Homo sapiens: one gene and its partner. The protein of the gene in region 1 purifies or fractionates together with the protein of each later gene. This does not show direct contact. Each region holds a gene or a part of one and is shown in the gene's direction. Other genes may lie near its edges. The genes, in order: NRCAM and YTHDF2.

Region 1 (3,827 bases):
TTTGGACTGAAGGCCATTGCCCTTACACCACATCATTTTTGTTAATGCTACGGTAACAGTGAATAGAAAGCAAAGCATCTTTGGAAATAGTACTTCCTGTGAGGCCAATACAACAATGATGGCAATAATCGCTAGGTGTAAGTGCTTCAGAAGTGTGAGGGGGTCCTGAGAATGTATACACCTGGGCTGTAGAAAATTTCAAGAATCATTTCAAATAATGCTTTCATGCAGGTGTAATTTTCCCTGTGTAACAGATTGAATATAAATAGACTCTACAGATATTATATTGTGTATGTACATAGGAGCTGTTGAATGGAACTCTACAGGAAGCTTTTCCGTTAAAAAGATTTCATTCATTCATTCCTTCATTCTTTAATAAATATTTACTGTGTTCCAGGCAGTGGGGATACAGTGGTGACCAAACAGAATATCTGTCCTTGGGAAGATTAATTCTAATTTTATCATCTAGCTACATACTTCATCACACAGAGTTTTTTTCACATATCACAAATGCATAGCCGATGAACTTGCACAAACTGAACACATTGACTTAACTAGCACTCAGATCAAGGAACAGTGTAATGCACATCTGAGAAAGCCCTCTTGTGGTCCCTTCCAGTCATTACTCACCCCAAAGGGTAACCACTGAGGCACTGAGGCTTTTTCCTTATATTCTCACCATAGATCAGCAGCTATTGGAATCTCATCCTCATTTTCAAAGAGTACCTACCATCTGAGAAGCTCGGTAACCCATAGCAAATTTAACTGGAATGTAGAGCTTCTAACATATTCTTTAGGAAGTTTTGTGCATTTGAATCAAAAGACTGCTTTACTTCAGTCTTCAGCTGTTGCAATGATTGATGAAGAGGAAGTGATTTGAAAATTACTAAATACATTTAGATATGCTTTTCCCTTAAAATTTTATGCTTCCCTACCTGAAGCATCCCTTCCAGGAACCTTCCTGGCAGGTGAGGACAGAGGAGAGAACTGGATGCTAAGGGCAAAAATCCAGTGACTTATTTTACTTAAACATTTTACTGCCTTGGCAAATGAAAAGCTCCTTCTGTTTAAAACAGCCTCTATTGGGATCAAAGGCTGAAGTTTCTTCCCCCCCCCACAGCATTAATGAGATATAATTGACAAGTAAAAGTTGTATACATTTAATATGTACAACATGATATTTTGATATATGTATACATTGTGAAATGATTACCACAATCAAACTAATAAACACATCTATCACCTCACACAGTTAATTTGTGTATGTGTGGTGAGAACATCTCATCTCCCCAATTCCCCTACCCACTAGCAATCACCATTCTACTCTCTGCTTCTATGAGTTTGACTGAAGTTTCTAAGAATAGGAAGATGTACCAAAATGAATTGACAAATTTTTATTTTTTCTCTTAAAATTGAAGGCTACCTGAGGAAGGAAATAGGGGAATGGCTCAGCCTTCAGCGTCAGCAACTGTAAATCCTTCATTATCAGGTTGTCTTTAAATGGGGCAGCAAATGCAATATGTTTATTTAAAAAATGTTTTTGCTAAGTTTTTTATTGTAAAATATATATGACATAAGATATGCCATTAAACTATTTCTAAGTGTATACTTCAGTGGCATTAAGTACATTCACATTGTGTGCAGCCATCACCACTATACCTCTCCAGAACATTTTTTGCCTTCCCAAATTGTAACTCTGTACACATTAAACAATAGTTCATAACCCCTCAGCCCCCAGCCCCTGGCAACAAACATCCTACTTCCAGTCTATGAATCTGATGACCCTAAGTACCTCATATGAGTGGAATCATACAGTATTTATTTGTCTTTCTGTAACTGGTTTATTTTGCTTACCATAGTGCCTTCAAGGTTGATCCATGTGTCAGAATTTCCTTCCTTTGTAATGCTGAATAATATTTCATTGTATGTATATGCCACATTTTGTTTATCCATTCATATGTCATATATACTTGGGTTACTTTCATCTTTTGGCTATTGCAAATGATGCTGCCATGAACATGGATGTACAAATATCTGAGTCACTGCTTTCAATTCTCTGGGGTATATACCCAGAAATGAGACTGCTAGATCATATGGTAGTTCTATTTTTTTTTGAGACATCGTTATACTCTTTTCCATAGTAGCTGTACCATTTTACATTTCTGCCAACAATGCGCAGGGGTTCCAGTTTGTCCACATTTTCTCCAACACTTGTTATTTTCTGTTTTCTTGATAATAGCCATCCTAATAGGTTTGAAGTGCAATCACTGTTACTTTTTTTTTCTTTCTTTGTTTTTTTTTTTTTGGAGACGGAGTCTCGCCCTGTCACTTGGGCTGGAGTGCAATGCTGCAGTCTCGGCTCACTGCAACCTCTGCCTCCCTGGTTCAAGTGATTGTCCTGCCTCAGCCACCTGATTACCTGGGATTACAGGCACCTGCCACCATGCCCAGCTAATTTTTGTATTTTTAGTAGAGACAGGGTTTTACCAGGTTGGCCAAGCTGGTCTTCAACCCCTGACCTCAGGTGATACATCCACCTTGGCCTCCCAAAGTGCTGAGATTACAAGCGTGAGTCACCACGCCCAGCCACTGTTATCTTTTAAAGCTGTAAATTAATATCTATATATTCTGAACAAGTCATTCACAGCATTTCTAATTTATTGGTTTAACATTTATTAATATGGAGGTATATGGTTTTCAACAAGTATTAATTGATTACATACTTTGTGCAAAGCAAGAAATTGATGTTGTGGAGCATATGTGTTGTAGTCCAAGTCCAGGATAAGCCAGCATTGATGGCATACATTCATGGTATTTTTCTAAAATGTTGAATTAAAGTACCTATGTCTGTAATACACTTGTGCTAAATGATTTTGCTATGAGGATAAGTTAAATAAATATGCTTTTTTTACTGCCAAAAAATGGCATTATTATTTTAATCTAGAACAAGAGCAAATTTGCCTCATATCTGAAAATAGAAATATTCTTATGCTGAATGTTTAGGGATGTACTGGCATTGTAAATTATAGTTCCACATTGGGCATTTCTCCCTACCATTGAATCTTCCAAGATGACAGCATAAACCTTCACCACCCAATTATAATTGCTTAGCTGAGCTAATAAAAAAGATGTGGTGTCAACTTAATTGACCTATTTTACTGGCCTACAAGATTGGAATTTCAAATTAGAAAAAGGTAATTTTTAACAGTCTGATGGAGGGTTTCCATCAAGTGACTAAGAAGCTAGTGAAGATAAAAAAAAAAAAAAGCCAGTGGTAAAGGGAACAAATTATAACCACTAATGCTCCTGTACTCACATACTGTCCTAATGGCATATTCAGTTCGAACACAGGAATGATGAATCTTACTTGTATTATGTGCTCTCCGAATTTCTTCCATATTGCCCTGGACTAAAACATGGTTTAATTCACATGAGAATGAAAATGACAGGTACTGTCAGGCAAAAATGATCCTTTTGAAATTCTTCTCATTAAATAATGGTAGGAAGGGCTGGAAACTATATTTTGAATATATATATGTTGAATATATATATATGTTTAAATTTTATTATGTGCATAGTGTGTTGGTTCAAAACCCACTGTAACCAGAAAAAAAAAAAATCTATTTCTAGGGCAATCTGAGGGAATCCTGTAGGAGGTCTTCCACTGGGTAATATGCAATGAATTTGATTTATCTTTCTCAAGTGGGCTGAGAGCATTCAAAAAATTCAGTATGAGTATTCAGCATGTAGTGATCTTTTCTCCAAATTTCAACTTTAAAGCTAATTTCATGCCACTTTTTGATGTCCTTGGCATTTGAATGGCATGA
Region 2 (3,827 bases), on another chromosome or scaffold:
TCCCAAGTAGCTGGGACTACAGCCGCGTGCCACTACACCCAGCTGATTTTGTATTTATGGTAGAGACAGGGTTTCACCATGTTGGCCATGCTGGTCTCAAACTCCTGATCTCAGGTGATCCGCCTGCCTCTGCCTCCCAAAGTGCTGGAATTACAGGTGTGAACCACTGCGCCTGGCCGAATTTGTTATTAAGTATTATTTATTATACATAATTTTACGTGCTATAGTTTTATACGACTTGCAGTGCGGTAGGTTTGTTTACACCGCATTACCACAAACAAGTGAGTAATGTTTTGTGCTACATCCTTACAGTGGCTTCGACATCGCTAGGTGATAGGAATTTGTCAGCTCCATTATAATCTTACTGATCTGTCATTGACTGAAATGTCATTATATCGTGCATGAGTGTGTGTGTGTGTGTGTGTGTGTATTTTTTTTTTTTTTTTTTTTTGAGAGAAGGCCTCACTTTGTCACCCAGGCTGGAGTGTAGTGGCCTGATCACAACTCATTGCAGCTTTGACCTCCTGGGCTTAAGCATACTTTTTCTTGCAGCCTTCTAAGTAGCTGGGACCACACAGGTGTTCGCCACTATGCCTGGCTAATTAAAAAAACTTTTTGGAGAGATAAGGTTTCACTGTGTTGCCCAGGCTGTTCTTGAATTCCTGGGCTTAAGTGATCCTCCTCCTTTGGCCTCTCAAATTGTTAGGATTCCAGGTGTGAGCCACCATGCCTGGCCTAATGTTTAAAAATTTCTGGCTGGTGCGGTGGCCCATGCCTGTAATCCCAGCACATAACGGAGGCCAAGGCAGGTGGATCACCTGAGGTTGGGAGTTCGAGACCATCCTGACCAACATGGAGAAACCCCGTCTCTACTAAAAATACAAAATTAGCTGGGCATGGTGGCGCACGCATGTAATCCCAGCTACTCAGGAGGCTGAGGCAGAAGAATCGCTTGAACCCGGGAAGTGGAGGTTGCGGTGAGCCGAGATTGCGCCATTGCATTCCAGGCAACAAGAGCGAAACTCTGTCTCAAATTCTAGTAGAGTCAGGTTCTCAGTATGTTGCCCAGGCTGGTCTCAAACTGCTGGTCCCAGCCTCCCAAAGTGCTGGGCTTGTAGGCAGGAGGTACCATGGCCAAAATAGATATTTTTAATAAAATATTATAGCCTTGCTTTAAATTGGAGAACTGATGAAAAATACTTTGTCTCTTTATCTGGGGGAAGTTAGCATCTTAATTATATATGACTTGATGTTTCATATATATATGACTTGAAGTCTAAAGTCAAGTCATTAGACTTATTTAACTTATTCACGGCATTGGAGACTATAAAGGTTGATTCTATTAAACCATATCAAGCAATGGAAGTAATTTTTGTGTCATCACATCACTTTTAAAAACACATTTTCCTAGCCGGGCGTGGTGGCTCACGCTTGTAATCCCAGCACTTTGGGAGGCTGAGGCGGGCGGATCACGAGGTCAGGAGATCGAGACCATCCTGGCTAACACGGTGAAACCCCGTCTCTACTAAAAATACAAAAAATTAGCCGGGCATGGTGGCGGGCACCTGTAGTCCCAGCTACTCGGGAGGCTGAGGCAGGAGAATGGCATGAACCCGGGAGGTGGAGCTTGCAGTGAGTGGAGATTGTGCCACGGCACTCCAGTCTGGGCAACAGAGCGAGACTCTGTCTCAAAGAATTTTAGAATGAGACTCCGTCTCAAAGAATGACTCCCGTCTAAGCATTTTATATTGTCAGCTGGGGTGCTGAACTTTGGGTTTCTTTCAAGGTTCATGGGGGCATAGGAAAAACTAGTTGAGAGCTATATAGATTTAATTTTGTGGGAGAGATAAACATTTACCAGATTTTAATGTTAATAAAATTATATCCAGGTGAATATGAATATGCCTCAGTTGTGTTTTATGGCCCACTTGAAAGTGAAGGGAGAGGGAGGGATAGAACAGTGCAGTAGTAAGTAGAAAGGTTATTAAGCTTAAATAGAGGGAAGCTAAATAGGCAGATTTACTGTTTTTGAATATTATATGAAGAGATTGCATATGTGCAGACTTTAACATTGCCACCTTATGGCTTTTTGTATATTTCCTCCAGAGACTGAATTTTCTATTTTATTTTATTTTATTTTTAATTTTTATTTTTGAGACAGAATCTAGCTCTGTTGGCTAGGCTGGAGTGCAGTGGCGCGATCTTGGCTCACCCGGGTTCAAGTGATTGATTCTCCTGCCTCAGCCTCCTGAATAGCTGGGACTACAGGCATGTGCCACCACGCTTGGCTAATTTTTGTATTTTTAGTAGAGATGGGGTTTCACAATGTTGGCCAGCCCTGTCTTGAGCTACTGACCTCAAGTGATCCACCTGCCTCGGCCTCCCAAAGTGCTGGCATTACAGGCATGAGCCACTGCACCCAGCCGAGTTTTCTATTTTGTAATCATAGATTTAAAGTGAGGAGGGCCTAAGGTGGATGGGTGGATAGAGATGTCGACATTATTTCTAGTTATTTAAGCCACAGACCAGATCTGTCTGGACTTGTAGTTTCCTAATTTATTCATAGTTAATATCTTTAATGTTTTTATTTGAGACAGAGTTTTGCTCTTTTGCCCAGGCTGGAGTGAAGTGGCGTGACCTTGGCTCGCTGCAACCTCTGCCCCCTGGGTTCAAACAATTCTCCTGCCTCAGCCTCCTGAGTAGCTGGGATTATAGGTGCCTGACACCAGGGCTGGCTAGTTTTTTATTTATTTTTAATTTTTATTTTTTATTGAGATGGAATCTCCCTCTGTTGCTCAGGCTGGAGTGCAGTGGTGCGATCTCAGCTCAGTGCAACCTCCACCACCCAGGTTCAAGCGATTCTCCTGCCTTAGCCTCCTGAATAGCTGGGACTACAGGTGTGTGCCACCATGCCCAACTAATTTTTTGTATTTTTAGCAGAGATGGGGTTTCACCATGTTAGCCAGGATGGTCTCGATCTCCTGACCTGGTGATCCGCCCACCTCAGCCTCCCAAAGTGCTGGGATCACAGGCGTAAGCCACTGTGCCCAGCCAATTTTTTTTTTTTTTGGGATTATGGGCGTGAGCCACTGAGCCTGGCCGACAATTTATAATTGTATATATTTATGGGGTACAAAGTAATCTTAATTTTTTCAAAGAACCAACTTTTGTTTTTTTTTTTCCTATTATATATACTTTAACTCATGCCAGCTCATATCTTTATTATTATTATTATTTTTTAAATTTATTTATTTTATTTTTTTTTGAGACGGGGTTTCTCTCTTGTTGCCAAGGCTGGAGTGCAGTGGTGTGATCTCGGCTCACTGCAACCTCCATCTCCCAGGTTCAAGCGATTTTCCTGCCTCAGCCTTCCTAGTAGCTGGGATTACAGGCATGTGCCACCACGCCCAGCTAATTTTGTATTTTTAGTAAGAGACGGGGGTTTCTCCATGTTGGTCAGGCTGGTCTCGAACTCCCGACCTCAGGTGATCCGCCCACCTCGGCCTCCCAAAGTGCTGGGATTACAGGCATGAGCCACTGTGCCCGGCCCAATTTTTTATTTTTATTTATTTTTATTTTTATTTTTTTGAGACGGAGTTTTGCTCTGTCACCCAGGCTGGAGTACAGTGGCGCGATCTCAGCTCACTGCATCCCCTGCCTCCTGGATTTAAGCAGTTCTCTGCCTCAGCCTCCCAAATGGCTGGGATTACAGGCGCCCACCACCACGCCCGGCTAATTTTTTTTTTGTTTTTTTTAGTAGTGGGGGTTTCACCATCTTGCCCAGGCTGATCTTGAACTCCTGACCTCGTGATCCACCCACCTCGGCC

What was found.
Region 2: the proteins of NRCAM (region 1) and YTHDF2 fractionate together in Homo sapiens (co-fractionation; one large-scale study listed by BioGRID). This does not show direct contact.

The regions. Positions count from the first base shown.
Region 1 is NC_000007.14:108,449,698-108,453,524, reverse strand, and holds part of NRCAM (neuronal cell adhesion molecule isoform A precursor), read left to right. Parts: intron 1-3,827. UniProt on the Homo sapiens protein: Cell adhesion protein that is required for normal responses to cell-cell contacts in brain and in the peripheral nervous system. Plays a role in neurite outgrowth in response to contactin binding.
Region 2 is NC_000001.11:28,760,702-28,764,528, forward strand, and holds part of YTHDF2 (YTH domain-containing family protein 2), read left to right. Parts: intron 1-3,827. UniProt on the Homo sapiens protein: Specifically recognizes and binds N6-methyladenosine (m6A)-containing RNAs, and regulates their stability. M6A is a modification present at internal sites of mRNAs and some non-coding RNAs and plays a role in mRNA stability and processing.